Regions from separate parts of the Homo sapiens genome. Here regions 1, 2, 3, 5 and 6 are each reported to be linked to region 4. Evidence: microRNA targets listed by miRTarBase, many of them from high-throughput screens and not tested one by one. Region 4 holds a microRNA gene; each other region holds the end of a gene's coding sequence.

What was found. The annotated mature microRNA hsa-miR-505-3p reads CGUCAACACUUGCUGGUUUCCU and lies in region 4 at 3,572-3,593, shown strand. An mRNA with a match to its seed (bases 2 to 7 or 8) in the 3' UTR can be bound and repressed. Matches are read on the target gene's strand: a 7mer-m8 pairs with bases 2 to 8, a 7mer-A1 pairs with bases 2 to 7 and ends in A, and an 8mer does both.
Region 1: the mRNA of ZBTB9 is a reported target of hsa-miR-505-3p. The part of its 3' UTR that is shown has no 7-base or 8-base seed match.
Region 2: miRTarBase lists ANKRD13B as a target of hsa-miR-505-3p. The part of its 3' UTR that is shown has no 7-base or 8-base seed match.
Region 3: miRTarBase lists MYO19 as a target of hsa-miR-505-3p. The part of its 3' UTR that is shown has no 7-base or 8-base seed match.
Region 5: the mRNA of TMOD3 is a reported target of hsa-miR-505-3p. The part of its 3' UTR that is shown has no 7-base or 8-base seed match.
Region 6: the mRNA of TM9SF1 is a reported target of hsa-miR-505-3p. The part of its 3' UTR that is shown has no 7-base or 8-base seed match.

Annotation. Positions count from the first base shown.
Region 1 is chr6:33,455,757-33,460,887 of GRCh38, forward strand. It overlaps ZBTB9 (zinc finger and BTB domain containing 9), which reads left to right. Exons shown (of 2, transcript NM_152735.4): 2 at 1-1,788. The coding sequence ends at 766. Among named protein-coding and RNA genes, the nearest start is that of ZBTB9, 3.7 kb to the left of the region's middle.
Region 2 is chr17:29,612,849-29,617,992 of GRCh38, forward strand. It overlaps ANKRD13B (ankyrin repeat domain 13B), which reads left to right. Exons shown (of 15, transcript NM_152345.5): 14 at 39-115; 15 at 506-1,913. The coding sequence ends at 734. It overlaps CORO6 (coronin 6), which reads right to left. Exons shown (of 11, transcript NM_032854.4): 6 at 4,652-4,771; 7 at 4,090-4,194; 8 at 3,854-3,999; 9 at 3,431-3,488; 10 at 3,097-3,327; 11 at 1,914-3,009. The coding sequence ends at 2,884. Among named protein-coding and RNA genes, the nearest start is that of CORO6, 7.5 kb to the right of the region's middle. RefSeq lists silencers at 389-618, 779-888, 2,217-2,286, 2,734-2,947, 2,827-2,876 and enhancers at 563-1,426, 2,292-3,155.
Region 3 is chr17:36,491,567-36,496,710 of GRCh38, forward strand. It overlaps MYO19 (myosin XIX), which reads right to left. Exons shown (of 26, transcript NM_001163735.2): 26 at 4,070-4,840. The coding sequence ends at 4,685. It overlaps ZNHIT3 (zinc finger HIT-type containing 3), which reads left to right. Exons shown (of 5, transcript NM_004773.4): 3 at 1,247-1,333; 4 at 2,360-2,440; 5 at 3,657-4,256. The coding sequence ends at 3,838. Among named protein-coding and RNA genes, the nearest start is that of ZNHIT3, 7.5 kb to the left of the region's middle.
Region 4 is chrX:139,922,609-139,927,752 of GRCh38, reverse strand. It overlaps MIR505 (microRNA 505), which reads left to right and starts at 3,522; the gene lies at 3,522-3,605. The region is part of intron 1 of ATP11C (ATPase phospholipid transporting 11C (ATP11C blood group)); the gene reads left to right.
Region 5 is chr15:51,908,366-51,913,509 of GRCh38, reverse strand. TMOD3 (tropomodulin 3) reads right to left here. Exons shown (of 10, transcript NM_014547.5): 10 at 1-4,734. The coding sequence ends at 4,700. Among named protein-coding and RNA genes, the nearest start is that of LEO1, 61 kb to the left of the region's middle. RefSeq lists an enhancer at 4,983-5,144.
Region 6 is chr14:24,184,664-24,189,807 of GRCh38, forward strand. It overlaps TM9SF1 (transmembrane 9 superfamily member 1), which reads right to left. Exons shown (of 6, transcript NM_006405.7): 6 at 4,486-5,144. The coding sequence ends at 4,752. IPO4 (importin 4) reads right to left here and starts at 4,153. Exons shown (of 30, transcript NM_024658.4): 1 at 4,056-4,153; 2 at 3,889-3,975; 3 at 3,681-3,760; 4 at 3,553-3,594; 5 at 3,004-3,133; 6 at 2,737-2,916; 7 at 2,422-2,487; 8 at 2,215-2,316; 9 at 2,045-2,128; 10 at 1,624-1,788; 11 at 1,466-1,519; 12 at 1,198-1,307; 13 at 796-904; 14 at 520-649; 2 more. The coding sequence starts at 4,124. RefSeq lists silencers at 3,149-3,359, 3,605-3,724.

The DNA of each region.
Region 1 (5,131 bases), not on the chromosome of region 4:
AGATGATGATGATGAGGACCAGGGGTCAGCCACACTCTCTCAGACTCCTCAGCCCCAGAGAGTATCAGGGGTTTTTCCCCGTCCTCATGGACCCCACCCACTGCCCATGACTGCTACTCCCCGAAAGCTTCCAGAGGGTGAGAGTGCACCACTTGAGCTTCCTGCCCCTCCTGCACTGCCCCCCAAAATCTTCTACATTAAGCAGGAACCCTTCGAGCCTAAGGAGGAGATATCAGGAAGCGGAACTCAGCCTGGAGGAGCAAAGGAGGAAACCAAAGTGTTTTCTGGAGGGGACACTGAAGGGAATGGGGAGCTAGGGTTCTTGTTGCCTTCAGGGCCAGGGCCAACATCTGGGGGAGGGGGTCCATCCTGGAAACCAGTGGATCTTCATGGGAATGAAATCCTGTCAGGGGGTGGAGGACCTGGGGGAGCAGGCCAGGCCGTGCATGGGCCTGTGAAGCTAGGGGGGACACCCCCTGCAGATGGAAAACGCTTTGGTTGCCTGTGTGGGAAGCGGTTTGCAGTGAAGCCAAAGCGTGACCGGCACATCATGCTGACCTTCAGCCTTCGGCCTTTTGGCTGTGGCATCTGCAACAAGCGCTTCAAGCTGAAGCACCATCTGACAGAGCACATGAAGACCCATGCTGGAGCCCTGCATGCCTGTCCCCACTGTGGCCGTCGGTTCCGAGTCCATGCCTGTTTTCTCCGCCACCGGGACCTATGCAAGGGCCAGGGCTGGGCCACTGCCCACTGGACTTACAAGTGACTGCTGAGGCTATACACTAGCTTCTAGAACAAGATAACCACTGCTGCTGATGGATACTTTTCCCTCACTGCCATGGCACACCAGTCATGGATCTTGTAATCATGCCAAGAGAATAGATACATTATGGACCTCTTGTTCTTAGATATGGGCCTCTCAGCCTGGCAGATGTGGAAACTCAAATTTCTCGTCCCACTCCAGGTTTTGGCTAGCCAACCCTGCAGGAAAGTGGTTTATAGGCCATTCATACTTAAGTTGATCACTTGCCCATGGTGGACATTTTTGTGGTGGTGATGTCCATTAAGGAAACCAGATTTTCAATTATTTAGTGAGAGAAGAGTTAGAGCAAAAGACAGTGGTAAATGTTTTATTCCGTCTCCATGAGGAATTGAAGGAGTTGGTCTCCACCTAGAGATACATTTGATTTACAGCTTAAGTAATTCAGAGGCTAAGCTCTAAGCTTTTTTCTCTCATTGCTGGAATGATTTAAGCAGAAGTCCTTTTGTGTACTTTTAAAATTGTATCTTTCCAGGAGCCCCTCAGATTGTACCTTGCTTTCTCACCAATAGACACCTTCCCGACACTTTTTTAATGTTGTAGCTGAGCACTTTAACAAGTTGAGCATTCCATGTTTCATTCTTAGAACCTTCTTTAATAGAGGGTCTTCCCTCAACAGCCTGTGCCTCTGGTCTACCTTTGACCACCACTGATAACTAATATATTGGTCACAATGACTGGAATGTGACTAGTGATCTCAGGAGATGGCACTGTCCTAAAGTGCTGTCAGGGTGGCACCACTGCTCTCTGAACAACTTACCTTGGTCAGAGGGACTCAGGTTTGGGACAGCACAAGCTGAAGGCTGGAGAGTAACTTGCATAGTAGGACCATACCTCTTCCTTTCCCATCCCACCCACATATGATAGACAGCCCCTCTGTTGAGATATGGAGGGGACAGATACTGGAATCGGGGGTGGGACTTGCAGTTACTTAAAATTTTTTAATAAACTGTGCCCTGAAACCTAAACTGACAGTGGACTGGATTGAGTAATTTGTGTGGGAGAGAATGTGAGAATGGAGCTGCAGAGCCTTGGGTGTGTTCCTTAGGTGGCTAGGTTATGTTGATGGGGAAGGAATGGGATGGTATCACACCCATTCCTTGGATGGTGCCAAGAACACTCTTCTGGACTTAGGCCCTGACCTGCTACTTAATAACCTTCAGTAGGTTGCCTTACTGTTTTGTTTTGTTTTGTTTTTTTGAGATAGAGTGTCACTCTGTTGCCCAGGCTGGAGTGCAGTGGCACAATCGCATGCTCACTGCAACCTCTGCCTCCCGGGTCCAAGTGATTCTCCTGCCTCAGCCTCCTGAGTAGCTGGGGTTATCAGGCATCCGCCACCATGCCTGGCTAAGTTTTTTGTATTTTTAGTAGAGACGGGGTTTCACCGTGTTAGCCAGGATGGTCTGGATCTCCTGACCTCATGATCCGCCTGCCTCAGCCTTCCAAAGTGCTGGGATTACAGGCATGAGCCACTGCACCTGGCCTGCCTTACGTTTTAAAATCTGAACTAGTACTTTTTTTGGTAGAGTGGTGTGGAACACCTAACTGGTTCTGTTTTCCTTTTTAAAAGAGGTTGGTTCACTTATCTTTTTATTATTATTTATTTATTTTTTGAGACGGAGTCTTGCTCTGTCGCCTAGGCTGGTGTACAGTGACGTGATCTTGGCTCACTGCAACCTTCACCTCCTGGGTTCAAGCGATTCTCCTGCCTAAGCCTCCCAAGTAGCTGGGACTACAGGTGTGTGCCACCACGCCTGGCTAATTTTGTATTTTTAGGAGAGATGGGGTTTTAGCATGTTGGCCAGTCTGGTCTTGAACTCCTGACCTCAGGTGATCCACCCACCTGGGCCTCCCAAAGTGCTGGGATTACAGGCCTGAGCCACTGCACCCAGTCTATTATTATTTTAGAGACAAGGTCTCACTATGTTGCCCAGGCTGGTCTCGAACTCCCAAGCTCAAGTGATACTTCTGCCTCAGCCGCCCAAAGTGCTGGGATTCCAGGCATGAGCCACCGCACCTGGCTGGTTCACATGATCTTTATAATATTCCCCAACTTCCTGTGTTCTCTGTGTTTGGTTGGTTGTTCTACAAACATTCAGTGCAAAGCACTATGCTAGACCCTGATTAATACACTGCCCTTAAAGGGTTCACAGGTATTACCAAAGATAGACAAGCCATTACAACGTGATAGGATAAGTTGATGATAGTGGGCAGTACAAACCACTTGAATGGCACAAAGAAAGCTAAGTAAAGACCTTCTCTAGGTCAGCAGAGGTTTCACAAACACAGCTTCCATGTGCCACAGTGTGGTCATGGGTGTGGGTGGCTGAACTGACACGGAGATGGTAAACAGAGGAGTCGAACTGAGAAGTATAGGGCCAGGGGTGATAGCCTTCCCCAAAGTTTGTTTCTGAAAGTTATGAGGTATGGCACTCAGAAGGGTCTGAAAAATGTGACTGTGGCTAAGAAGGTAAATTCTAGCTGGGATTTGACAGTGTCTCAAAAGAGCCATGCCATGATCCCATCCCCATGATAAGGACTGTGAACTTATTGGGAAAGGGGATGAAGAGGGGTCAACCTGTCTTGGATCTGCTATAATCCCATCCATCAGCTATTCTTGACACATATTCTATGGGTGGCTATATCCATTGGCCAAGATCCTTTGGCTTCAAGCACTGGAAGCTGGCTCTGGCTAACCTCACCAGACAAGGAATTTATGGCAGGATGTGGGGTGGCTCTTGGAATTCAAAGAAGGGCCAAAGGACCAGCCATCAGAAGGATAAGACCTGGGTCAGCGTTGGGGGTCCATGGCGCAGGAACTCCAAGGCATACAGTTTGGGATGATGACTCATTCTTGTTTCTTGTGTCACTCATCTCAAGATAAAATTTCCCAGGGAAAGAACTCTAAGCCTCATGACCACCCTCTGGTCAGAGCACCTTGATCATATAGTCCATCAAGATGGCAACAAAGTGGGCATGGAATCCTCAAAAGCAATTGAAGTCCTAGGACAGAAGAGAATGGGTTCTGGCCAGCCCACAGCAACAGAGACACACACCGGACGATCTCCATATGTTACACATTTTGGGATCCCAAAGCCTCAGGTATACTTGCTACTTAGTGGGTGTTCAAGATACGCTGAAGCTGCCCAACTTCCACCTCTGCCCGCTGGACTTAAGGCAGAATTGTTTCTTCCCTCTCCTTAATCCCCATGACACTTTGTCCTTACTTGTATCAAAGCAATTAAAATAGCTTGTTAGAGTTTTTCTTCTTTTGTTTTTAGGTATTATACAGAAAACAAGTGCTGAAATTAAAGATTTTGGTTTAAACAAATAAACTTGTTACCTCTCTGCCTCTGTCCTTCAGAAGATGCAGTGGAGGAGATGTCCAATCTAGTGTCAAAGGATAGCCCCATTCCCAGAGCCTTTGCTCTTTTAATTATCACTTCTCTCCTTTATCTTTCCCCTCTCTGTCTCTGTAGTTCATTACATTTAACCATGCTCACAGGGTAGTGAGAATTAATTAATACATGTAAAATACTTAGAACCATGCCTTGCATGCAGTAGTCACTCAATAAGTGTTAGCTGTTATCATGAGTGAGACCAGTAGTCATCGGTTCCCCACCCCTTTACTGCGATCAGTTCTCCCAGAGAGAGATCACACTCATAATAAAGGAAATTGCCCCATCAAAAAGTGGGCAAAGGACATGAACAGACACTTCTCAAAAGAAGACATTTATGCAGCCAAAAAACACATGAAAAAATGCTCACCATCACTGGCCATCAGAGAAATGCAAATCAAAACCACAATGAGATACCATCTCACACCAGTTAGAATGGCAATCATTAAAAAGTCAGGAAACAACAGGTGCTGGAGAGGATGTGGAGAAATAGGAACACTTTTACACTGTTGGTGGGACTGTAAACTAGTTCAACCATTGTGGAAGTCAGTGTGGCGATTCCTCAGGGATCTAGAACTAGAAATACCATTTGACCCAGCCATCCCATTACTGGGTATATACCCAAAGGACTATTAAGTCATGCTGCTATAAAGACACATGCACACGTATGTTTATTGCGGCACTATTCACGATAGCAAAGACTTGGAACCAATCCAAATGTCCAACAACTGTAGATTGGATTAAGAAAATGTGGCACATATACACCATGGAACACTATGCAGTCATAAAAAATGATGAGTTCATGTCCTTTGTAGGGACATGGATGAAATTGGAAATCATCATTCTCAGTAAACTATTGCAAGAACAAAAAACCATACACCACATATTCTCACTCATAGGTGGGAATTGAACA
Region 2 (5,144 bases), not on the chromosome of region 4:
TCCGCGCCGCCACGGCTAACGCCCACGCCTCCCCGCAGGTCACCATCTGGGAGGCGCTAACCAACAGCAAGCCAGGCACCCACCCCATGTCCTACGAGGGTCGCCGACAGGACAGGTCAGTGCCCGCTGGGCCGGAGAGAATCCTCCGGAGAGGATCCTGTCTCCCCTAAGCCAGGACACAGCCGGAGAACCCGCGGGGCCCTCGGCAGGGACCCTCCTGGTATCGGGATGGCTTCTGCCACCACTCCTGCCTCCGAGGCGGCAGGCAGGGGTCAGGGATCCAGGCTTCACCGCGGAGTTCAGACTCTCCCCAGGCATTGACGGGGAGAACTTGGTAGGGTCTGGGCTCCGCCACGACCAGGTGGGGGCCAGGACGCCGCGGGACTGACCGCCTCCACTAGAGGGTGGTGGCCGCGGGCCGCCCTGGAGCCTCCACGCCGTGTCCCGGCCCCGGCCGGTGGGTGGGTGCGCCCGGGAGCCCGCGACATTCCTTCCCCACCCCCAGGAGCGCCCCGCCCACGCCGCAGCGCCAGCCTGCGCCCCCGGCGTCAGTGCCCAGCCCTCGGCCCAGCTCAGGGCCAGGTTCCGGCGGCCACGTGTTCCGGAGCTACGACGAGCAGCTGCGGCTGGCGATGGAACTGTCGGCGCAGGAGCAGGAGGAGAGGCGGCGGCGCGCGCGCCAGGAGGAGGAGGAGCTGGAGCGCATCCTGAGGCTCTCACTGACCGAGCAGTAGCGCCCCCTGCCGGGACCCTCGCCAGCGCCACGCGCGCCACGCCCAGGGCCAGGAGCCAGACAAACCCCGGCCTGCGCGCCTGCAGAGCGGCGGCTGGAGACTGGAGCCACCGCCTCGCGGGTGCAGCAGCACAGCAGGCACGGTTCGGGGAGGGATTCGGCATGGCCGCGGGGTACCTTCCCAGGCCAGGGCCCTGGAGGCAACTGGCACGGCCTGGTCCCCCTGCTTTGCTGTATTCTGATTCCCCAACCCGCTCCCCTGGGCTCAGATCTGTCCTGTCCTAGGGCGGAGCCAGGCGGTCCTGAGGGGGAGATGAATCCTTAGAGGAGCGCTGTCCCTATCCCTTGCTCCTTCTGGCCGGTCCGCATTTCTGTTCACTAACCCCACTCCAGGACACTGCCCCTGAAGCCTTTGCATCTCTGCTCTTCACTCCTGGGGGGCAGCTGAGCTCCCCGCGTGCTGTGTCACTGCTTTGTTCCAGACACAAACCAGCACGTCTAGGGCCCAGCCCCTCCCCCACCCCGGCATTTCAGCGTCAAGTGCACTTAGCGGGGTACCCGGCTCCCCCAGCCCCCACACCCGTCCTGGGTCTCAGGGTGGTTCCAGCTTCTCCTTGGGCAGCCAGAAGTTGGAGTCCCATCCCCCAAGGCACATTTTTTTTTTTTTTTTTTTGTGATCAGGGAGTGTGTCCAACGTAGCCCCCTGGCCTGTGCAAGCCCTGACTCCCTCATGGTGCCTCGGAGAGTGGGGAGCATATTGGGCTGGGGTAAGCACTAGACCCAAGTAGACTGGACACAAAGGGCTCGCCCAGGGCCCTGGCGCCACCCCCACCCCTTCCCACCAGCTGCTGCTAGCCTCTGTGGTTGTACATCCCACTTGCCCCCACACGGAGACTGACTCTAAAACCCTTCATCCAATGGTGCTAACCCCCGGCTCTCCCCTGCCCCACCTCACCCACCCAGAGAAGCACAGACCCCGCCAGGGGCAGGGGCCCACCGCACACCCTTGTCCCGGGCCTGTCTGGGACTGGCCTTCCCGGCTCAGCCAGTGAGGCTCAGAAGGGACACAAAGAGGGATGGAAGAAAAGAACAAAGAGAAACTGTTCCTCCCACCCCCTTCCCTGATGCCAGGGGCACCAGACTGATTCTGAGGCACAAATAAAAGAGGCTTCATACCGGAGGCTTTTGCTACCTAACTTTACTTGGGGGGAACGCCTACGGTGTGGGTTGGGGTCCTTCTGAACCTCAGAGTGGAGAGAGCTCTAGGGTAAGAGGCTGCCTGATGGACCCTGAGCCCAGGAGTGCATCGCCAGGTCTCCCAGGAGCCTGGGGGTAGCATTTGCAGAGGCTGGGGGTCTCGTTCCCCTCACTCCCACCCATGCAGGAGGCACAGACTGAACGCTTAGTAAAATATTTCATTCAGTACGTCTTGTTTTTCTGAGAGAGGCAACGGCAGAGGGTTGGGGGCAGTGTGTGTGTATTTGTGATGAACCTAACTCCTCATGCCAGTTCTCTCGAGATTTCTTCGCGGGGGCTGCCGCGAGGAAGCAGCCCTCGCCCCTGTCGGTGGAAAGAAGGAAGAGAGTTCTCTACCACAGACCGCTGTGGGTGTAGCCACTGGGTCCGGCTCTGCAGCAAACGGGTTGTGTATGTGTCTGCAGAACTGGGGTGACGCCCATCTGGTTTACCGCTCAGGGTGATGGAATCCAGTGAGCTGATTAGGAGAAGCGCTGTCATTTTCCCCAGCCTGGGGGTACCCATCAAATCGCCACCCGTTTGAGGTCAAGCTCAGGCTCCAATAACCCCAAGCATCACGCTAATACTAAGCACTTTCCCTGCCCTGGGCGGAGGACAAAGGGGGACACCACCTCGCCGTGCAGCACCATTGCTGAGCCCCCCAGGTTACCCCAGGCCTCCCTAGGCCAGCTCCAGCCGAGTCCCAGACGAGGCTCGCAGTCCAGCCTCCGCTGGAGCGACGTGGGTCTCCCCTAAGCTCCAAGAGTTCTGGTCTCCCGCGAGGGGCGGAGTTCCCTCCCCAGTCCCGCCCCCGGGCCCAGCCCAAGAAGGCGGGGTCCGGAGTTCGGGACTAAAAGCCGGGGCGGGGCCGAGCTTGTGCGCCCCGCCCCGCTCCGCCTGCCTGGCGCGCGGGGCTAGTCCGTGCCGTCCACCAGCTCGCACAGCATGTTCTCCAGAGCCGTGATGCGCTGCTCCTGGGCCTGCACCCGCTCGCGGAGGGCCTTGATCTCTTCCAGCAGCGTCTCCAGGGTGTGCTGCTGCTGGGGCGGAGGACAGAGAGGCCGTGTCGTATAGGGGCGGTTGGGGGAGATGTAGATTGGGCCAGAGTGCAGCAGGGCCGATCTTACCGACAAGGGGGCGTCGCTGGCCGACTGGCTGCGGCGGGGGCCGGAGGGCGGGCGCACGTCCAGGATGTTGCGCTTCGTGACCCGGAGCTCGCGGTGCTTGGGGGGCACATAGCCGTCCCTCAGCGAAATGAGCACGGGTTCGGCGTCCTGGCCGGATAGCCATTCGTCCGCTTCTAGGGCCGGCTCCGGGCCTGGCGTATCCGGGTACAGATCGTCCTGGAAGAGGTCTGACTGCGGGGGTGGGTGGACAGGAGGACTTGCGTGAGAGGGTGCGGGGCTTGCTCCGCTCCCTTCCGCCTCGTAGCCCTGCCCAACCCTTCTCCCGGCCCCTCACCTTGCGGGGCACAGTCATGATGATAGGTTCACACTTTCTTTCGTGTAGCTTGTAGAACCTATAAGGGAGCAGGGTTCAGCACCCTCGCAGACTTCCACGTCCTTAACTTCTCCTGTCTAAGACCAAGGGGGTTGGAGGCCAACACTTGCTCAGCGCCTACCATGCATATTGCACATTACACACATTATTGGTTCTGCAATAAAACACCCTGATGGTGTGTTCACCATCATCTTATAGATGAGGAAACTGAAGTTGAGAATGTAAGGCTAGTGAGCGGTGGGTCTGGCACTGAAACAGAGCTGTCTTATCCCCCCGCCCCGCTTTTCCAAAGCACTGCATTACTGGGGAAGCCCCGTGGCTAGGACCCGACATGAGTGGGGGACAGAGGCGGGTAGGTGTTCAGGAGGGGCCAAGGCTGCTGACCGGGCGATCTCACACTTGCTGACATCCAGTCCCCTTTTGGGCATGAAACCCATGCCCCGCTGCGGCTCTTTGCTGCTGAACGTGTTCAGGTAGTGCACGAAAGGCGGCTCGTCGGTAATCTCAAAGTACCGAATGCTGCTGTCGCCCTGCAAAATCAGTCGGTTCAGGGGCGCGCCCGGACAAGGCCCTCCACATCTCCATCCAGTGCCCTGTTCTCCCTGCCCGGCCGTGAGCACCTTGCCACACAGGTAGACGATGCTGGAGTCGGGATCGTAAAAGGGCAATAGGACCCCGTTGCTTGTGTCCATCTCCTGCAGTGCCACTGGCTCCTCGAAGTTGTTCTGCCCGAGCACAGGAGGCGTGACCAGCCCTGCCCCACCCTCCCGTGCTACTTCGGGACCCCCAGAAGCCCCTTTACGCTTCCTGGCCTTCCCAAACCCTATGCCCCAAACCTCTAGTGACCAGAGTTGCAGGCCCCTCCCCTGGGCACATCTCTCCTCCTCCCCTGCGCACATAGCTCCTCCTCCCCTGCACATATACCCGCTGCGCGCCGCATGCAGTCACAGCAAACCACCCCCAGGGACTCGGCATCACCAGGTGGGGGCGCCAGCGCAGGATCCTTCACGCGACGCAGCAAAACTGGGCAGAGGGGTGGGTGTGAGAATGGCAGGCGCTGCAGAGGTGGCAGCAGCCTTCAGTCCTGTCCAGGTGGGCATGCCCTGCGGGTGGGGGGCGCCTGGCCACTCTCCCGTGATGCCAGTCCCCGAGGCACACACCCCAAGCCTCCAGCTGCGTTACCGGGTCCCACAGGCCCAGCTCTCGCTGGCTCATGCGGGTGAAGCCCGTGGTGAAGATATGGCCCTGGCGCGTGAAGACGGCCCGCATGGGCCTCATCCCCTCGTGGGCCGCAAACCTCTCCTGGGGGGAGGGGGAGACAGGGAGGGACATCACCCAGCTGCCTGCCCTGAGGAGCATGGAGGGATGAGCAACCAGCTTGCTGACTTGGGTGTCCGGGGTGGAGGAGCGGATGCGGGGAAGAGACAAATGGGGCCTAAGCACTCAGCTTCCTGCGGGGCCACGTCTGGCCCCTGACCTGGAGAGCATCCGGGCCTGGAGAGAGCAGGAGGCACGCGGCTCTCAGCCGATCCCGAACCCTTAAGCGCGCTCAAAGGCCGATCCCTAGAGCAGGGGTGTCTGCTGGCTCCCCGGAGTCGCAGCGAGGCTTTTCCCGAATGGGAGCTCCCCGCTCCGCTCTGGCCTCTTGGGCGCCAGCCACAGCCCGGGAAGGCGC
Region 3 (5,144 bases), not on the chromosome of region 4:
AAATTGCTGGGATTACAGGCAGGAGCCACTGTGCCCAGCTTCTCCTTCCTTTTGCTAGATCTCTCTCTTGAAATGTGGTCCTTGACTTTTATTCCTAGGTAGGTGATCTCTCTTTCACTTTAAACTTTTTTTTTTCTTGCTGACATCCAACTGTTTAGCTCCAGCCTCTTTTTGAGCACCTTAGACACAAATGTATTTTGGGGTCAGGTACAACCCAGAAAATTCACCTCTCCTTCAGTCCCTCCTGCTGTGTTCCTTACACATATAGCATAGCCGTAAAGTTAGACCCGGATTCCAAATCTGCCTCTGCTACTTACTAGCTGTGGACCCCAATGGACAAGTTTATTACAAGAAAATTTAATCCTTTCATCTGTAAGTGGAATTAACAGTCTCCATGTCATGGGGGCTTCGTAAAGGTTCATTGAGCCACTATGTATCTCACTGTGTACCTGGCACAGTGCTCGGCACTTAGTCACTGGCAGCTGTTGTAACTGCCACCTACATGACTAGAACCTTTCCGTAGCATATTGTCAAATCTACATTTTAAGTCTCTACAATCTGGTCCTGCCTTTATGTCCTCAGAACCCTTTCCTGTGACTTCATGCTCTGTTGATACTGTCACCCAGGCTGGAGTGCAGTGGCACAATCACAGCTCACTGCAGCCTTGACACACTGGGCTTAAGGGATCCTCCTGCCTCAGCCTCCCAAGTAGCTGAGACCACATGTGTGTACCACCATGCCTGGATGATTTTTTTTATTTTCTGTAGAGACATAGTCTTGCTAGGTTGCCCAGGCTGGTCTCAAACTCCTGGGCTCAAGTGATCCTCCCACCTTGGCCTCCGAATGTTAGGATTACAGGCGTGAGCCAGCACAGCTGGCCTTCTGTTGACTCTGTAAGTTCTTTGGTGGTTTTGCCCCTAGTTTTATCCCATCTGGTATCTGGTTTACAGCAGCTATTTCAAACACCTCAGTTAATTGTGGTGAGAATTTTGTAAGATTCGGCAGGGTAGGGAGGATGGGGACAGGTTCTTGGGGTGCATGAATGAGTCCTGCTTTCTCAGCCTGCTGGCGGTTTTCCTTAATCTCTCTCTTGCTTTGATCTCTCACTTCTTCCACATTCCTGGGCACCCACCCACATCCCTTACCCCAGACACTTGCTTCCTACCTAGATGCTACCTTGGTAGGGAGGTGCAGCCTTGTCGCTGAAATGGAGGTAATGTGGGCCTGGGATTTGTGTCTTTTTCAGAACAGTGCAACCCTGAAACTCGTCCTGTTGAGAAAAAAATAAGATCAGCTCTTCCTACCAAAACCGTAAAGCCTGTGGAAAACAAAGGTGGGTTGGTTGACTTCAAACAAATCTACAAGGGACTTCACATAGAATAAGTCGAAGGAAAAGGGGAGAGTGGGGCTGGTCAGGGAATCCAGAACAATAGCTTCATTGGGAAGGAACAGCTTCCTTAGCCTTGAGCATCAGGAGTGGGGCCATGTCATCATGGGTGATATTGAGGCAACAGCCTGAAAGCAGTATTCAGGAGAAGAAAAATGGGCAGAAGACAGAGATGAGAAAGGCCATGGCTGTGGTTTGGGGGTTTGCGGTGGGCCCTGCTGGCAGGAGCCTTCTCTAGCCCATAGCTGCTGGTCTCCCTCCATGAATCTGGCTGGGACTGTCAGTTCACCTGAACTCAGCCCAGGCAGGAGGCTTTCTTTGTCCTAGATCATCTCGCTGCTGCTGGGGGTTCAGAGCTCACAGCAGTAGTGGGCTGTCAACCCATCCGTCCAGCCATCTAAACGTTCTTTAATACCTCCTGGGTGTCAAGCACCATGCCAGGCTCTGAAAGCAGCCCCTCTGGTGCCACCAAAGAGGTATTGAACATTCACTCCAAAGGCATGGCCCATTTTTGCCCTTTGAGAAATTTCCAGGTTGGGTTCAGGCAATGCCAGCAGTTTCTGCCCATGCTGAAAGCACAGGAGATTCTACTTGGCTGGTTTTTACAGAGCATCCAGTTAATTGGCCCATCACAGGGTTGGAGCCATGTTGAGGTGGGGATGGGTATTAAGTTATTAGACAACCGGGGTCTAAGCCTAAAGACCACAGGACCACATATACAGTAAGGATGTGAACACTAGAGTGCATTTGTTAAAATCACCAATTCTTTCACTTAGCCTCCCTCTTCTAAAAAAGGAGTGTTAGTATAGTCACAGACTCCGGAGAAGAGGATTTTTGTCTGTACCTGCTTGAATACCCCTATCACTATCACATGTGCGTGCACACATTTTTATCCTGTTCAAGTAGTGGTTAAAATCTGGTGCCCAGGCCTCCTTTTTAGCCATGAGCCATTGACTGTTTTGTATTCCTTAGATGATGATGACTCTATAGCTGATTTTCTCAATAGTGATGAGGAAGAAGACAGAGTTTCTTTGCAGAATTTAAAGAATTTAGGTAAGTCTGTGCTATGCTTGTCAATCGTTGAGATACATTTACTGTGTTGTAAGGATTGTGATTTTTTAAAAAGTTTTTAATTTCTTGAATAAGTATGGCATGTAGGGCTCTTACTATCTAGCCACATAATCTGTAAACATACAGGGTTTCACACCTCCCAGCCTGCCCACACCATTCCTTCTGCCTGGAATCCTGCTGGTCTTGTGGGTTGGCAAAATTCTGCTCCTCCTTCAAGCCTTGGTTCAAGTTTTCTTCACTCAGCTAAGCTTTTCTTGACCTTTTGTGTCTCTTTCAGAATTAGGCACTTTTTTGGTTTCCCATAGCAACTTGGACTTAATAGTAATAAATCACTGTTACATTTCATGGTAATTTGTCTCTCACATACCGATTTGTACAGCAGGGACCTGTATTCCCAGATCCCCAGTGCTCAGCTCACAGTCCAGCCCTTAACACAAACTGGTTATCACATGATTTGATTTAGGGGGAAACAGGTGTTGCCATTTTTGTAGCACTGCTTATTCAGTCCTTACAACATTCTGTTACATGTGCATGGGGTCTGTTAATTTCATTCTTCCCATTTCACAGAATCATGTTAAAAGGTTATGTTTTGCACTTAGTCTCATGGTAATGATTAGTTAGACTGAGTTTGGAGATGAGCTAGTAATAGGTGTGAAAAATTTTACAGACTGTGAAGTACCATGCAGGTATTATTGTTGGTTCCCTGCTACTGGTGCTGCTGCATGCCAAATGGCATGCTTAGACATCATTCAGATTATTTCGTATAGCCGTCTTCACCACTGGCAACTTTTATGGCTAGAAAGAAAGAAAACATGCCAGCAGCTTAATGCTACTATTTGCTTTGTGATTGTGCTGATAAAGCATTTTTTTCTTAGCTGAAGTGGCACGAAGTTACAATATTTACAAAGATACCAAGAACTGGTATCTGTTACTGCATTTAATGCGGAAATAGTTTGATATGCTGGTCTTACCTTTCATTTTATAGAGGTGGGGTCTCGCCATGTTGCACAGGCTGGTCTTGAACTCCTGAGCTCAAGCAATCTGCCCACCTTGACCTCCCCAGTTGCTGGTATTACAGGCATGAGCCACCACACCTTGCTGATAGTTTTATTACACTTGAAATAGCTCTTCACTTTTCAGCCATCTCCATGTGTTTCCACTTGAACTCAGACTGGCTTTTTTTCTTGTTAATTTTTAGGGGAATCTGCAACATTAAGAAGCTTATTGCTCAATCCACACCTCAGGCAGTTGATGGTCAACCTCGATCAGGGAGAAGACAAAGCAAAGCTCATGAGAGCTTACATGCAAGAGCCTTTGTTTGTGGAGTTTGCAGACTGCTGTTTAGGAATTGTGGAGCCATCCCAGAATGAGGAGTCTTAAGATGGATTATTGTGCTGCTTGCTCAAGCGTGTGCTTGACTCCTGGAACCTGCCTGCTCCCTCTCCCAGACCAGCTAGTTTGGGGCTGGGGAGCTCAGGCAAAAGAGGTTTCCAGGATGCAGATTAGGTCATGCAGGCCTTTACCGGCATTGATGTGGCTCATGTTTCAGGCAGACTTGGGGTCCTTAAGGTGGCAAGTCCTTTATGGAGAGAAAACTTGACATTCAGATGATTGTTTTTAAATGTTTTACTTTTGGTACAGTTGATAGACATCATAAACGATATCAAGCTTACACTTCATATGGAGTTAAACTTGGTCAGTGTTAATAAAATCAAAACGTGATTCTACTGTACATTGCATTATTCATAATTTAATTGTTTGAAATTACATTAAATAAATCAACTAATTAAATACTAAAGTTTTGTTCCTTTTTAAAGGAAATAACCACAAGATTTTTCCCAGCCCAAATTCCAGCGCCAATTTTAGGCCAACTTTGGCTGTTTTCTTCCAAAAGTGCTTATGTGGAATTGGGATCCCCAGTGTAGTGACAGACAGTCATGACTGCTGCTGAGTTTGATCTGTGAAGGTAGTGAAATGTGGCCCTGATGTTTCTTAACCCTGATTTGGTAACTACCAGCCCTGACACCATCAGTGCTTGATGTAGCCTGGAACCCCAGGCCCACTGACGCACTGGGCACGGGGCTCTGGGTCGAAGGCTGGAGCCGTCACTGTTGTTCATGTGCATTTGGAGCACTGTGGGAATAGTCTGGCAGCTGTGTGCTGATTAAATGTCTTTGGCAAGGCAGGGGGCAGGAAAAGGCCTTGTGGAAACAAAGGCACCAAGGATCACCCCAGCCCAGTGAAGGCAGAAGAGGTCACGTGGATCAGCCTGTGTCTTTCCAGCAGAATCTGATTAAAGCCTGTAATGCTGTAGGGTGAAGGTTCAGGGCAGATGTCAGCATACCGCAGTGGAGACTTTCTGCAGTGAAACTTTATCGATCCCTAGAGGGGAGAGAGAGATGCAGCTTTAGCACTAGTTCCTGGGAGTGCCAGGGCCTAACAACCCCACAGAGCAGACGCTAAAAATGCAAGAAGGTATGGACAAGTACTAGTATTGGGGGCCACAGCAGGATTAAAATAGCATTACATCCACTCAGTGTGAGACAGATGAGGAAACCCTAGGAGGAGGCGCTCCCTAAGAGGAATGTCTGTCACATTCCTATGACTGCTTAAAGCCAGAAGGGCAAAACATTTACCCTTCTGTTTAGCAGGCCTGTGTGTTTTCATGGGAGACTTCATCCAGATT
Region 4 (5,144 bases):
TTTTTTTTCCTTTTTTTTGAGATTTATTATGGGAATTGGATCATGCAGTTACAGAGGCTGAGAAGTCCCAGGATCTGCCATCTGCATGAGCCCGGCCACAAAATATCCCCTTCTTTTATTTATTTTTATTTTTATTGTTATTTTTTTTGAGACAGAGTCTTACTCTTGTCATCCAGGCTGGAGTGCAATGGCACGATCTTGGCTCACTGCAACCTCCGCCTCACGAGTTCAAGCGATTCTCCTGCCTCAGCCCCCCTAGTAGCTGGGATTACAGGCGCCTGCCACCACGCCTGGCTAATTTTTTGTATTTTTTAGTAGAAACGGGGTTTCACCATGTTGGCCAGGCTAGTCTCGAGCTCTTGACCTCAGGCGATTTCCCTACCTCGGCCTCCCAAAGTGCTGGAATTACAGGCAAGAGCCAGCATGCCTGGCCTCTTTCTTAGATGATTAAGGCATTGTATGGTTTTGCAGAGCAATTATCATTCAGCAAATATTCACTGAGCACCTACTATGTGCTGGGCACTGCAGTCAATCCTGGGGTCGTAGATGAGCAAGACAGACAAGGTTCCTGTCTTCCTGAGCTGTAATTATCATTACATACACAACTATAGATATAGAGGGCATGGTAACTGCATTGCATTGAATACATTTGTGACATACCATGAAATTTGATCTTTGTGAATAAGTTACTATTACATACTTGTCATTTTTCTTTCTACTAAAAATAGATTGTACAATATCAGTTATTTTCTGGTTGTTTGGATGTCAGTTAAAAAGGAGTTTCTTGCATTTGTCTCCTTTCATCTGACCTACGCATGGCAAACTGCTCTTTTGCAAATAGATGCTAGGCTGACCCCACGCAAGGTGGGAAACTTATTTAGAAATGAACCACTGTAACTTGAAATAAATCTTTACACAAGTGAAAGCAGGTTTTGTCTTCTTTTTTCCTGATCTACCTTTTAGTGACTAAGCAACATAAAACTCTGAATGTGTCCTGAATACTTTCTGTAAGTGTTTACTGTTTGTTCCTTTTGTTTATGCTTATTGCTAATAATTCAGCCATTTAGTGAGTAATATTGAGTGCCTATATACCAGGTAGTTTCCAGTGTTCCTAATTAACTTTTAGCTGAATTGAGATTTGGGCAGGTGAAGCTGGCCATTTTTATATTGATGCAACTGTTCAAAAGAGCTTGTTTTTTCAAAAAGCTGCCAGTTTACCACCTGCTGAGCAGTGGGTTCTAGGAGGTAAAGGATGGCCAGTGGCCCCTGAAAGAACCATAACTAACCTTGCTGTGTCTGCATGATGTGCAAAGAACTAGCCCACTGAGTGAAATCAAATACTGGTTTGTTGAGTGATGGAAAAAATCAAGGCTCATTGCTTGTCTAACATGGTTATTCAGTTCTCTCAAAGAGGGTGAATGCATGGGATATAAAAAAAAAATACTATTTTTTTCTTCAAGGTGGTGGAATTTCCTGTACATCTGTAGTGCTTTATACAGATGAACCTTTTACATCTGGAACCCTCGAGACTGGGGGAGTTTTTCTGGTTAGGTGGAGGGAGGTTCTGGGCTTCCACAAATGAATTAGGTGCTGGCTCTCGAGTTTATTTCCTTTCACTTAACATTTACCTTCTTGGCCTGGTATAAGGGTAGATTAGCGGTGATCGTAAAACAAAACATACTGGCACAACTGCAGCATATGTTAACACTGCTGCAGCTTAATGATGAATGAGTGCTCAGCACTGCAGATATGGGCACAGGATGCCCTATGCCCACACATTGGCAGACAGCCCCTCAATTATTGCAGTGTATGGACGGATTACTGGGTCGGCTGACTTCTTGATAATAGAAGATGTGATTTATAAATGATAATGGACCGTGGATTTCCAGATTTAGAAGGTTAACCTGTATTTGTGAAGTAGAAATCATTGATTTCTTGTGCCATATGTATTTAATGGAATATGGGAGGATTGGTGATGTTGATGATATTGCTGTTCAAGCAGATATCATCATTTGTTTTTTAGACGTCTCTATTATATGTTGTCATAAAGTATTAATGTGGCAATGTTTTCCTAGTCCCTTTCTCTTTACCAAGGTATTCTTGGAAAAATCAGAAGTGTTCTTGAAAATGATCTTGCAGTTAGCACAGCATCAGGTAAACAGTAGATGTTCAATTAATACTTGTTTAATTGTTTTGAGCTGAATTGGTAACACAGTCTGAGTCAGTAATAACAGATGAAGAATGATCAGTTTAGGAAGCAGCCACCAAGAAGCTTATGCATTTCAGACTGGGCTACAAAATTAGCCAGGAGTGGTAGCACAGGCCTGTAATCCCAGCTACTTGAGAGGCTGAGGCGGGAGAATCACTTGAACCTGGGAGGCAGAGGTTGCACTGAGCCGAGATCGTGCCATTGCACTCCAGCCTGGGCAACAAGAGCAAAACTCCATCTCAAATAATAATAATCCTGTATGCTTACTATAAATACAGATTCCTGGGCCTTGAACTTACTGAATCCAAGTCTTGGGTGACAGACTCCAAGAAACTGTTTTTAACAAGCATTCCAAGTGGTTCTTAGGTTCACTAAAATTTGAGAACAGCAATATATAATATAGTAAACACGGAAATATTTATTTTCTGGGCACACTCTCTGTTCACCTTTTTGAACTTCAGTTTCTTCATCGATAGAATGGGAATAATAATACCTATTTCACAAGACTGTTGAAAAAAACGTTTGGTAGACTATTCAACACTATACCAATTGTGACAGAGGTCCTCAAAACCGGCCTAGGTTTGTTGATTCACTGGCAGAACTCAGTACATAGAAACGCTTGCGGATGTGATTTATTATAGCAAAAGGATACAGAGCAAAGTCAGTAACGGGAAAAGGCTCATTGGGGCCAAGTCTGGAGGAAACCATGTGCAAGCTTCCAGTCCTCTTTCACTGAAATCACACAGGTCATGCTTAATTCCTCTAGCAAATGAGTTTTGACAACTTGTGTGAAATGTCTACTAGGGAAGCTTATTAGAGATTCAGTACCCAGGGTTTTTAGTGGGAGCTGGTCACACAGGCACCCTCCACCTGGTACACAGCAAAATTCCAGACCCCAAGGAGGAAAGCAGGTATTCAGTGTAAACCCTATTGTTTACACAGCTTAAGCAGAGTGAGCCACTCTTATCAGGGTGATGGAAACCCTCCCAAAATCCAAGTCCCCAGACACCAGCCAAGGACCAACCTTGCAAACAGGCCTTACTAAGAATAGCAGTGTCAGGCCTGCTATGTTAACTCTTTCCATCACGCAAATATTGTGAAACACTGGTATTTTTTCAGTGAAAGGAAATGACTTGTCCAAGATCATTAAGCTAATCAGCAGTACAGCTGAGACAGACTCCCAGCAATCACATCTTTTCTTTGCTGCCCATAGCCATGCTTCTAGATTATGGGTCATTCCTTTTCATACTGTCATTGAAAGCACTTACTGTTTGTCACTTGAAGCAGAAGAGCAGCCTGCCGGTGGTAAATTGATGCACCCAGTGGGGGAGCCAGGAAGTATTGATGTTTCTGCCAGTTTAGCGTCAACACTTGCTGGTTTCCTCTCTGGAGCATCGCCAAGTTCGTGGATTTTCATTTTTCCTGACTTTTGGACTTTTGTTACTGCTCCCATTCATTTGCTCATAGTCCTAATACTCATTTGCATCATCACTTCATCCCATTCTATACCTTTTGGGTAACACAATTTCCAAATGGTGGGAATACTGCAGTATTTTGTCAAAGAAGACTATATAGGAAAAAAAAAATTCTGAGCAATGAATTTTATGGCAATATTTACAAATATTGGTTTATATCCTGGATTGTCTTTTGAGTTTTATAGTCATGGAAAACCCTAGGGATATCTCTGGTTATTTGGAGTTTCAGCCATTTTTACTGTTATAAAGGAAAATTAACAAATTTGTTATGATTGGAGCAAGGAATAAGGAAATCATACTGGATGGTGCAGTAATCCCACATATCGACAGGGAGTAGAAGCCAGGAGGGAATTGCCACAAGTAAGTAACAGCTGGGTAGAGCAGATTATGTAAGCTACACCTGTTGTGTAAGCAGTGGGGACGTTCTTTAAGCTTCACAATTAATGTATTTTGCAGTAATAAGGATTAAGGGATCTATAGTATAGTGTACAATTTATTCTGGCTTCTTTTCTGAAAACATTCATGTGAATCACAGCTTTCTTGGAACACTCATCCCCTATTTGGTGCTGTAGAGGTGTGTAAGGTACAGCCCTGCTCACCAGTAGCCTGCAGTTTGGTAGAAGAGAGAGAAGACCAGCACACAGGACCATCCTCCACACAAGGCCAGTAGGTCACCAGAGCCATCCTTTTGAAGGACATACACAGTAAGTGCAGTAGGCATTCAGAAGGAGGCACTGGCTCTCTGGCTTCATTTCTTGGGGAGAGCTTTATGGAGGAAGTAGCCTGTCAACTGGGCCTCTGGGGACCCAAAGGGCTGAAGGTTCTGAGATTTTAGGGATGGGCAGTCTCATTACAGGAGGAGGCAATTACCTGAGCAATGGTGCAGGGTCATTGTTGTACTTAAAGCATGGGAACCAGTCAATTTAGAGAACATACATGCCAACCCCAAATGAGTTTGAGCTGTTATAAAAAAAAGTATAACAGGTGGGGCTCAGTGGCTCACGCCTGTAATCCCAGCACTTTGGGAGGCTGAGGCAGGTGGATCATTTGAGGTCAGGAGTTCAAAACCAGGCTGGCCAACATGGTGAAACCCCATCTCTACTAAAAACAAAAATTAGCCAGGTGTGATGGAGAGCACCTGTAATCCCAGCTACTCGGGAGGCTGAGGCTGGAGAACTGCTTGAGCCAGGGAGGTGGAGGTTGCAGTGAGCAGAGATGGCACCACTGCACTCCAGCCTGAGTAATAGAGCGAGACTCTGCCTCAAAAAAACAAAACAAAACAAATAAAAAGTATAACATAGATTCAGTGGCTTATGCACAACAGAAATTTATTTCTCACAATCCTGGAACTTGGAAGTCCAAGATCAGGATGCCAGCATGGTTGGGTACTGGTGAGGGGGCTTCACGTCGCAGACTGGTGACTTATTGTATCTTCACATGGCAGAAAAAGAGTGAAATGA
Region 5 (5,144 bases), not on the chromosome of region 4:
CAGGTTGAGTATCCCTTATCCAACATGCTGGGACCATTAAGTGTTTCAGATTTCAAATTATTTTGGATTTTGGAATACTGGGCATTACACCAGTTCAGCATCCCTAATCTGAAAATCTGAAATTCTAAATGCTCCAATAAGCATTTCCTTTGAACACTATGTTAGTACTCAAAAAGTTTTCAATTAGGGATGTTCAATCTGTAGATCTAAGAATGACCAAATTAAAATATAAGAATAAGGCTGAGTGTGGTGGCTCAAGCCTGTAATCCCAGCACTTTGGGAGGCCGAGGCGAGTGGATCACCTGAGGTCACTTTGAGAACAGCCCGGCCAACATGGTGAAACCCCGTCTCTATTAAAAATACAAAAAGTTATCCGGGCGTGGTGGCGGACGCCTGTAATCCCAGCTACTTGGGAGGCTGAGGCAGGAGAATCACTTGAATCTGGGAGGTGGAAGCTGCAGTGAGCTGAGATCGCACCACTGCACTCCAGCCTGGATGACAGAGTGAGACTTGGTCTCAAAAAAGAATATAAAAATCTTTGCCTCTGAATACTATTTTCTCAATTTAAAAATAATTAGTGAAGCGTTTCTTTGATTTGTTGGTAAGCAAATCTTAGGGTAAGAAATATCCAGAAACATTAATGATCAGTGAGAGCTGATGGAGAGGATAATTTTACAGATACTTAGACCCCAAGAACTCATAGCCCTTAACTGAGAGCAGCAACCCGAGTTGTCTCTAGTGCATCCATATGTTTGCTTCTCTTGGGTGACATGGGTCAATACGTTCAAAGTGCAGTAACACTGTAGAATGAGTAAATTTGGGCAGTACTAAACTTGCAAAGAATGGAAGTGACTAAGGACTCCAGAGAAAGCATGATCCTTGCATCTGCTGGGAGGTTAACAGTGGTTCCTAGTTTTTTAGGGAAAAAGTGAGGCAGCCCTGGGAACACAGACCCTAAAATGTAAGATTTTATAAAACTTCATAAATGTTGTCATCTTATTTTAATGACAGCAAGAGTTAAATATAACGTACAATATGATATGAGTAACATTTTATAAAAAAAAAAAAATTTTTTTTTTTTTGAGACGGAGTTTCACTCTTGTTGCCCATGCTGGAGTGCAATGGCGCGACCTCAGCTAACTGCAACCTCCGCCTCCCGAGTTCTAGTGATTCTCCTGCCTCAGCCTCCCGAGTAGCTGAGATCACAGGTGTGTGCCACCACGCCTGGCTAATTTTGTATTTTTAGTAGAGACAGGGTTTCTCCATGTTGGTCAGGCTGGTCTCGAACTCCTGACCTCAGGTGATCCGCCCACCTCGGCCTCCCAAAGTGCTAGGATTACAGGCGTGAGCCACCGCACCCGGCCCAAAACATTTTTTAAAATAATTTTTATTATGTCATGGAATCCTCTTTTTAAACAAAAACACAACAGATACTCGGTCAACTGGAAAACAATTTATAGAATTCTATTTACATGTAACTTCTCCAGAGCGAATATCTTATACAAAGCAAGGATGTGGGTTATTTCAATCAAATAACATGAAGTCGCAATTAAATGACCAAGCTAACTCTCCTTGAAGTCTCTAACCATCTGCTAATTTATTTAATACAAAATGCTTATTTGGTCTTTTAAATGACAGGCAACTTTGAAAGTGTATTTCACCTATTCTTGAGAATTCTACTAGGCTTTAGCTACAAGAATATAGCACCAAAATCCATTTTAATAGTATTAATATTTGCCACTAATATTGAGTTTTTAATACATACAATTTCATGTAGGAATACTGGAAAAATTCAGACAAATATGAGTATAACATTTTATAAAATGGGTAATAAAAAGCTTTTTTAAAAATAGCAATTTAAAAACACAAAGAATATTCTTTTAAATAACCACATAAGCTGGTTAGACTACAAAACCTAAGGTCTCAGAAAACCTTTGGCTTAAAAATTAAGACTATTGCAAAACCCTAATCTATTTATTATAAAATTTTAGAGCAATTTAGAAATACTGAAAGTTACTAAGAGGTGCCAGATTTTTAAAGATTGAAGTAAACCCGATTTTTCTCCCTTATAATTTTGGAAAGATTTTGTAAATTCAATTGGATGAATGTTCATATTTAATGTCACTTATGAAGAAATCATTTCTTTCAGTTATACAATGAACTACTATAATGCAGAATTGAAATGGTACAAGCAAAATACTCAACTTCATACTTTGATAAATAATATATGAAAAAGATATTACCCATAAGTATGATGCAAAATTTTAGGTAGAGTCCCACTTACCTATATTAAAAACAAAAACAAAAACAAAACTTAAGGGATGAAGGGGGAACTATTTATCAACTAATTGACTTACAGGACAATGCAAACGAGGATGCCTGACTGAAAGTCTAGGTGACCAATTCTTTCTGGTAGCCTGAGATGCCTGCTCCATGCCTGACTCCCAATCTTGCTGGAACTGTGCAGTCTCTATAAAATCAAGTACAATCAAAAAGCTGCATATGCGGGGAAAAAAAAAGAGAGGAGAAGAGAGGGAGGGAGAGAAATAGGTAAATAGAGAAGGTAGGAAGGGAGAGGGATGGAGGCAAGGGAGGCAAGAAAGCAAGCAAGTGAGCCTTGCTAACTTAGAAAAATATCAGTGGCCTTTAACTGACAGGGAATAGTGCAAAGTTAACCTTTGGCCCCTATAAAACATTGGATACTGATTTAAAAAACAAAACAAAACAAAACCAAAAAACCAAAACAAACCAAAACAAAAAAAAAAAAAGAGAAACACCACAGTTCTTATGAGGGAAGCTTAGCCTGTTAAGAAGGCTTATTACCATAGCACACAAGAAGCTGCCTTGCTTATTAGATAAACTGTCCAGCCCAAGCCAAAGTAGCAGACATATTGCAATTCAATTTCAAAAAGTTTGTTTGTTTGTTTGTTTTTTGAGACAGAGTCTTGCTTTGTCACCCAGACTGCAGTGCAGTGGTACGATCTCAGCTCACTGCAATCTCCATCTCCCAGGTTCAAGCAATTCTCCTGCCTCAGCCTCCTGAGTAGCTGGGATTACAGGTGTGCACCACCACACCCGGCTACTTTTTTGATTTTTAGTAGAGACAGGGTTTCACCATGTTGGCCAGGCTGGTCTTGAACTCCTGACCTTAAGTGATCCACCCACTTTGGCTTCCCAAAAGTGCTGGGATTACAGGCGTGAGCCACTGCGCCCGGCCCAAAAAGTTTAAAAAAAATTAATAATGATTAGCCACCTTGCCTTCCTCAGAAATGAGACTTTTCCCTCCAGAAAAATCTCTGTAAATGATACAGCCAGGCCTGAATTTTGAGGCCAGGGCTACCTCAGATTCCATTCCTCCCTGTTTTCTGCAGCTGTAAATGCCTCTGCCATCTCCTGCTCCAGGGGCTGCCCTGAGACAGAACATGAATACAAGTCCAGACCCTCTACCCAGCATCAGCTCTGCAGTCTCAAATCAGTCTCCCGACCACAGTACTCTATTCAATTGTTCACCTTAATACTTTGAGCAAGAAAGACTGCTTTTATTATAGAAATGACTTTTATAAATATTGATAAAAGTATAAGATGAAAGGAAGCATATACTAAAAATTAGATTTATGAAGAATAGCAGTTTTCCTTCTTGGTTGGAAGATTTGTAGCAGTGATTAAATACTGTTTATGCAATTCTGCACTGCACATAGGAACTTCTTCGGATATGGTGTAACACCAAGTAATTTACATACATGCCAGCTTCCAACTGACTTACAGTAACCATCAGTTTAAATGACTGTTTTGCAAGTGCCTCATACTGGAAATCTATCATATTTATTATCTTTGATTTCATTGTTTAACAGTTTTCTTTTTTCTCTTACCCTAAATAACTAAGAGTTGGCTGTACGCCTTTTTTGGGGGGTGGGGAGGGAGGTGGTGAAAACAGCTTTTATTTTTTACTATTAGCTTCCACAAAAATTTAATAATGCCCACATTATTAAAATGAAACACTGGAATGAACTTCGACCTCACTATACTTTTAAATAAAGTATGTAACCTGGCAAAGCTGATGACTTTGTTTTAAGAAGACCTGGGTGTTGCTACGTCACATCAGACAAGTGCAGTAACCTGGAATGCACAGACGACCACCCTCTCTCCCTGGAGACCTGCTTTAGCTCCTACACAGATGACTAGATTTTGAGTTAACTGTTTTAACATTCTGGCATTTTGTTCTCTTGATAAAGAAAAATCACACCCTTGCCAAGTTCATGTATTTTAAAAAATGGAAAACTCTCCAGGTCACGGAGTGAAGAAAACACTTAAGTGTTTTATGTCTAAATGAAGCAATAACAATTCTGATACCAGCAACATCCCTTTTGATTTAAAAAAGATTGGTCCTCACAATGTTCAAATTATTCTACACAAATGACCTGTGAAATTTTTTACAGTTGTATTTTTTTGCCCAAGATTCATCATAAATCATTCAATTAAACTAAATTAAAATTGATTTTAGCAGAAAGTAGAAATGTTTCAGAATATAAAATATCACATTACTGATTTTACAATTTGATAACAACTAAAAAAAAAATGCATGTCACTAAAAAAATTTTTCCAGTCTTTTCCCTTCTACCCAGGAAAATTTTACATGATGTCACCAACATGAGCCCTTGGTGATCTTCTGAAGTCTTCCAAAGATTACACCTTTGCAGACTTACTGGTGATCTCCTTCAACTCGTCTCTTACGCACTATGAGAAAAATAAAAGAAACTATGTTAGAAATCCCTATTAGTTTTTACAATGGTAACTTGCTTATAACAAGCAAGTTTCTGCATAATCCAGTTATAAGTTTTACAAAATTGAAATGTCCATTTCCAGTTCACATGACCACTAATTAAAAAAAAAAAAAAAACAACCTACTTCCCATCATTCACCACTGTCATTTACTTGTTGAGAACCAAGGGGCTTCAACAAAAGAATTACATGCCCTAAGCTCAATGACTCATAGCTGTGCTTACACAGCAGCAGCACTAGAAATCTAAAACAGAATGGTCAGCAATCATCTACAAGTCATTTGTTTTTGTTTATTTTTAACTTTGTAATTTATTAATAAAACAGACATTAGGTCTCACTATCTTGCCTAGGCTGGTCTTGGACTC
Region 6 (5,144 bases), not on the chromosome of region 4:
TGCACAGGCTGAAGGTCCTCACGGCCTGTTAACAGGAATTCCCGCAGGTGCTCCATGATGGCAGGGAAGTAGGGCAGCAGCGAGGCCTGGGCAGCCGTAGCTGCAGGATGGAAGGACAGAATCAGAGCTGGAGAGGGCAGGGACCACCAGCCACAGGGCCTTTGGGTGAACCCCACATCCCTGCCTCCTGCCTCTCTCCTCACCAATGGCTCCCAGGGCGCTCACAGCCAGCTCCTTGGCCCGGGGACTGCTGGGGTTCCTCAGAAGCTGCAGCATGCATTCCATAAGCTCCGGAAGGTAGGGCTGCACCTTGGGCCCTGTGGGAAAGGATGCTCCTCTACCAACCAACCCAGGTCTGCTACCTGCACGCCCACCTCCCTCCAGGCGGAAACCTTTTTTTGGCACCATCACACCCTTTCCCCTACCACAGGCAGCAATGCAGGGAGATGCACATCCTGTACATTCAGCCAAAGCCGCCGCCTCATCCCCCTTCCCCAAGCTCCCCACTGCCATCACTACCTAGGTTCTCCACAAAATTCTCCAGGGCATAGCAGGCCTTGGCTAGGTGGTGTGTGTGTCCAAGAGGCACCGACTTCAAGTAGGCGAGGAGCAGTGGCATTACCTCCCTTGAATAGCTGCTGATATGGGGCTGGGGGAGGGAGCAAGCAGGGCCTGAGTCAGGTTCACCTGCCGGGCACACACAAGAGTGCTGATGGCAGCAGGGATGCTTGAAGAGATGAAAGATGAGGGGAAGGGGACATTCAAGTGGTGGCTCCCACATTCAGCCTGGTTCACCTGTAGGTTTTCTGAGAACTGGCCCAGGGCAAACAGCGCAGCATTGCGTACAACTTGCGAGGGGTCCTCCAGGCCCTTGCACACAATCTGCAGCAGTGGGGGCAGCAGTCTGGATGGGGCAAACAAGAGGACATAGGCTGAGAAGCTACACCTGAGAGCCCTAGGCTGACCTGTTCTCTTCATTTTCCCTGGAAAAACCAAGGCTTTTCCTGTCACCAGAGGGTGGGCAGCAGCCCCTGGTCCCTATAGCTGGTAAGCCATGTCATTTATCTTCCAAGCCAGGACACTTTTGATAATGGGGGGAAACGCTGTTGATAAATAAGCTTGAACAACAAGCGTAAACCAGGACAGCCATGGTCCTCCCTGTGGGCAACCCTCACCCTGGGACAGGGGAATACATACCTCTGCCTGATGTGGTCGCCAGCTCCGTCAGACAGCACGGCCAGCACCAGGAGTCCAGCTTTGCGCTGGTATGGGCTCTCGCTCCGCAAAGCCTCTTCCAACATGGGCATCTAGGGAAGCATGTGGCACGCTTCTGAAACCCCAGCAAGAGCCTGCCCATTCCTGTGGTAATAGGCCTTCACACCTCCCAGGGTCTAAACGTCGTTGGCCTCAGGGGGACTAGGCACACTTGGAGGTAGGGACACCAGAAGGACAGAGCCACACTTACCAGCTGGGGACAGAGCTTCTCGGGGGGCAGGTGTAGTGCCAGCATGTCCACAACCTGAGATGGGATGGGGAGACTTACTTTGCTTGACTCCATCTCTGCCTCCCCAACGTCCCACAGCCACCTAACACCTTCCCCCTCTGTCCTGCCCCACATCTCACTTGTACAGCGAAATGCTTGGGAGTCTCCCCCATCAGCTCAATCTCCAACTCTTCCTCTTCTGAATCCTGGTCCTCGGGATCCAACTGGCCTGGTGGGGGCTCAGCAGCCACAATGGGGAAAAGGGTGTGCAGCAAGGGTGGCAGGAGACGATTCTTCAGTAAGGCCTTGACAGAGAAGGTGGAACAGTGTCCCTAAGAATCTGCTCCCAGGATGGGCTCACATTAAAAATTCCAGTCTTCCAGGCCATAAGGGGTCTGACAGAAAATTCCCAACCTCCCAGGCAGGAGCTGGGGTGAGGCCAGGCCAAGGCTTGAACCCCCACAGTACTTTAGATACCCTGAGATGGACCGAAAGCCCCAGGAGTGAGACTAAGGGTGGAGATGGGGGTGGGGTGATGTGTGTCAATGGGCACTCACTTACCTTGCTCTTGACTTTGACCAAGAAAGTGAGGCAGCAGAGAATACGTATGCGTATCGCATTGCCCAGGGCCACATTTCTAGCTACCTGTCCACAGAATAATAAAAATCAGCGACAGGGAAGGAGAGTCCCAGCAGAGCATGTAGCAGGGGCCATGTCCACTCCAGGCTCACCTCCAGGCAGAATGTGAGGACTTCAGAGAGGTAGGGGGTGATGACCGGCACCTCTGACTCCAACAGTTCATCCAAAGCCTCAAGGGCCTCACAGGCCTTTGCCTGACAGACAAACAAGGCACAAGGTTACCATGCTCTTCTTCAGTGGGCCAAACTGGACACTTCTGCACTCTCCTTCCAACAGAGCTCCTGCCCACCTGTCCTCACCTCATCTATGGGGATCAGAGTCTGCATGGCCATGATCAGCTTGGGCACCAACATCCGAGCGAGAGGCTGAGGGACACATCACAGAGAGCATGATGCAGCCCAATCTCACACCCCAGCAGCTGGCAGCTTCCTCACAGCCTGAATTGCGAGGAGGAGCCCAGGCATAACAGCCAGGCCCACCTACAGCATCCCCTCTCAATTGTCAGGAAGGGCCACAGGCAGGTAAAGAATCCAAAGCAGCTTTGTAACTTTTACGGGTGAGGACATGAAGGCATGAGGAAAGGGAGTCAAAGATAACGAGGGCCCACATCTCACCACATCTTCAGTGCTGAGGTAGGGAGCCATGGTGGTCAGAGTGCGCAGGGAGTAGAAGAGCAGCCCAGGAGAGCCCACCTCACCAAGAGTCTCATTCAGAAGCCGAAGAAGCTCCCGGTGGTGGGGTTGGAAGGCCTCGGGCCGGGAGGTCACCACCACACTTAGCAGCAAAAGCCCCATCTGTCCAAGAATAGAGGATGGGAGAGCAAGCTTACAAGGTCTATCCAGCCTCTCAGGCCCTCCCTCCTGCCAACCATGTGATGGTACCTCTCTCTCTGGGCTGTGGGGGCTGTGGGTACTGTGCTGAAGCAGCTGCAAAAGCTGTGGCCAGGCCTCCAAGCCTTCCTTTCGAAAAATGGTGGCTGAGAGCTGGGCCAGGCTGAGGCTCACACAGTGCCTGCAAACAGGAGAGATCTCCTCCAATCACCCTTCAATACCTTCCTCTGCACACAGTGGCCAGGCTCAATGGGGCAGCCAGGACAGAAACTTTCAGGAGGTGTGGGCACAGGGTCTTTGCCAAGTTGGGACACATGAGACAGCAGCTCAGAGGGAGCCCAACAGCACTGTGGGCATGTAATCTGGTAAGTTCAGTCTAACTTAGCCTGAATTTCAGTCTTATTCTTCTGACTTGGGTTTGGCAGATCATCATCACCCTTCCTCAAGAACTTTAGTCTTCAAAACAGCCTTAAAATCCTCACTCCACCTTGCGTCTAGAACTGAAGTCCCTGCCCCACAAGTCCCAGCCTGGAGCCGAAAAGGAAGGCAGAAACCTAGACAAAGTCGTCAAGATCCCGAGAGAAGTGGGTAGGTACTTACTCTGTTTCTCTCTGCAGGGCCGTCAGGATCAGGGACTTGAGGCTGGAACACAGGTGGCAGGTGTTTGGTACCCAGCCTGCCCAAGAAAAGTCTCCGCCTGGCCCCGCCCCACCCCAGGCCCAGCCCACCTCTCCCGTTGCTCCGCCGCCAGCCGTCGCCAGCGGGTGTTCAGTCGTCTGCGGGTCAGCACGGCCGCAAACTGGCGGATCTAGGACGAGGAAGCAAGCACGTGGGGGTCCGGGCAGGAAGGTGCTGAGCGGACCGCAGTGGGCGAATACTGGGGCTTGACCGGTGGCGTACAGTGGGAAGCTCGGAGGGGAGAGTCAGGGGTCTCACCTGGGGGTCGGCCGCCGAGGCTAGCAGGTCGCAGAGAGCCGGCAAAGCGGCGGGGGCCCGAAGAACGATCTGGAGCTGTTCCGTGGCCTGGGGGGAAGCTAGGGGTGAGAGTTGGGCCTTTCCCGCAACCTCCCGCTCGCCCTGGCCCGGTTACGCCTGCTCCGTACCCGACGGATGCGCTCGGTGTCCGGTAGCAGCAGCTCCCGTAGGAGCTGCTCTAGCCCGGCTGACTCCATGGCAGCAACTGAGCCGCCGCTACTGGGCCGAAAAGGGGAGGGGGAGGGACAGCACGTGGAGGTTCTGACACCCACTTCCGGAGGAAAGGGCGTTGCTGCACGCCCCGCGGGTTGCCAAGGTGATTCAATTCGCTTCCCACAAAGAGGTCCGGCTCCTCCACTTCCGTTAGGCTGAGCACCGGCTGAATCGCGGAAACCCGACTCTGGCAATGTAGGTTCCCCACGCCGGGAGTTCCCAAGCTGGGTTGGAGAACTCGAGCTTCGGGCATTCAGTGGCCAGCTCGGCTTTATAAAGGACCGTGCCCTTAACAGCAGGGCTCGAGTTCCTATATCCAGACCAAAACCTCCAACTGCATGAGCCTTTTTCTTAATAAATTTTATTTTGGTAATTGTAAAAAGAAAAATCAGGACCAAAACTAAAGGCAACTTAAAAAGTTCAAATATATAATCCTTATGTGATAGAGATTTATAATTTCCAGGCCCTCTCTGGGGAAGGAATGCCCAAAGGGCAAAAGGGAAGGCAACAATGCCATCACACAATTCAGTCAATCAGAAGAGAAGCTGGTAGGAGAGTTCAACAGGGCATGAAGAAAGGGAGAGAACAGCAATAGTTCTGCCATACAGAACTCAGTCCATCTTGAGGTTAACATAGATATACCGGATGAACTTTAGGGAAGAAAAAAAGGAGATGGTGCCCAGCATGAGGAAGAAGACATAACCAGTGAGTAAGGAGTAGCCGAAGAACTCTACTGTCTGTACTGCCCCAGACATGTTGGAGCGCCGGGCATAATAGAAAACTGAGTAGAGGAAGATGAAGAGGCCGGTGGAGCCAACACTCAGCACAGATCGCCACCACCAGCGGTAATCCTCCCCAGACAACTGGAAGTAGGTGAGTGCAATGGAGATGCAAGCCCCCACACTCAGCAGGATGGCGAAGACAAAGAAGAGGATGCCGTACAAAGTGTACTGCTCCCGACCCCATACTGTGGCAAAGATGTAGTACAGCTCCACAGAGATGGC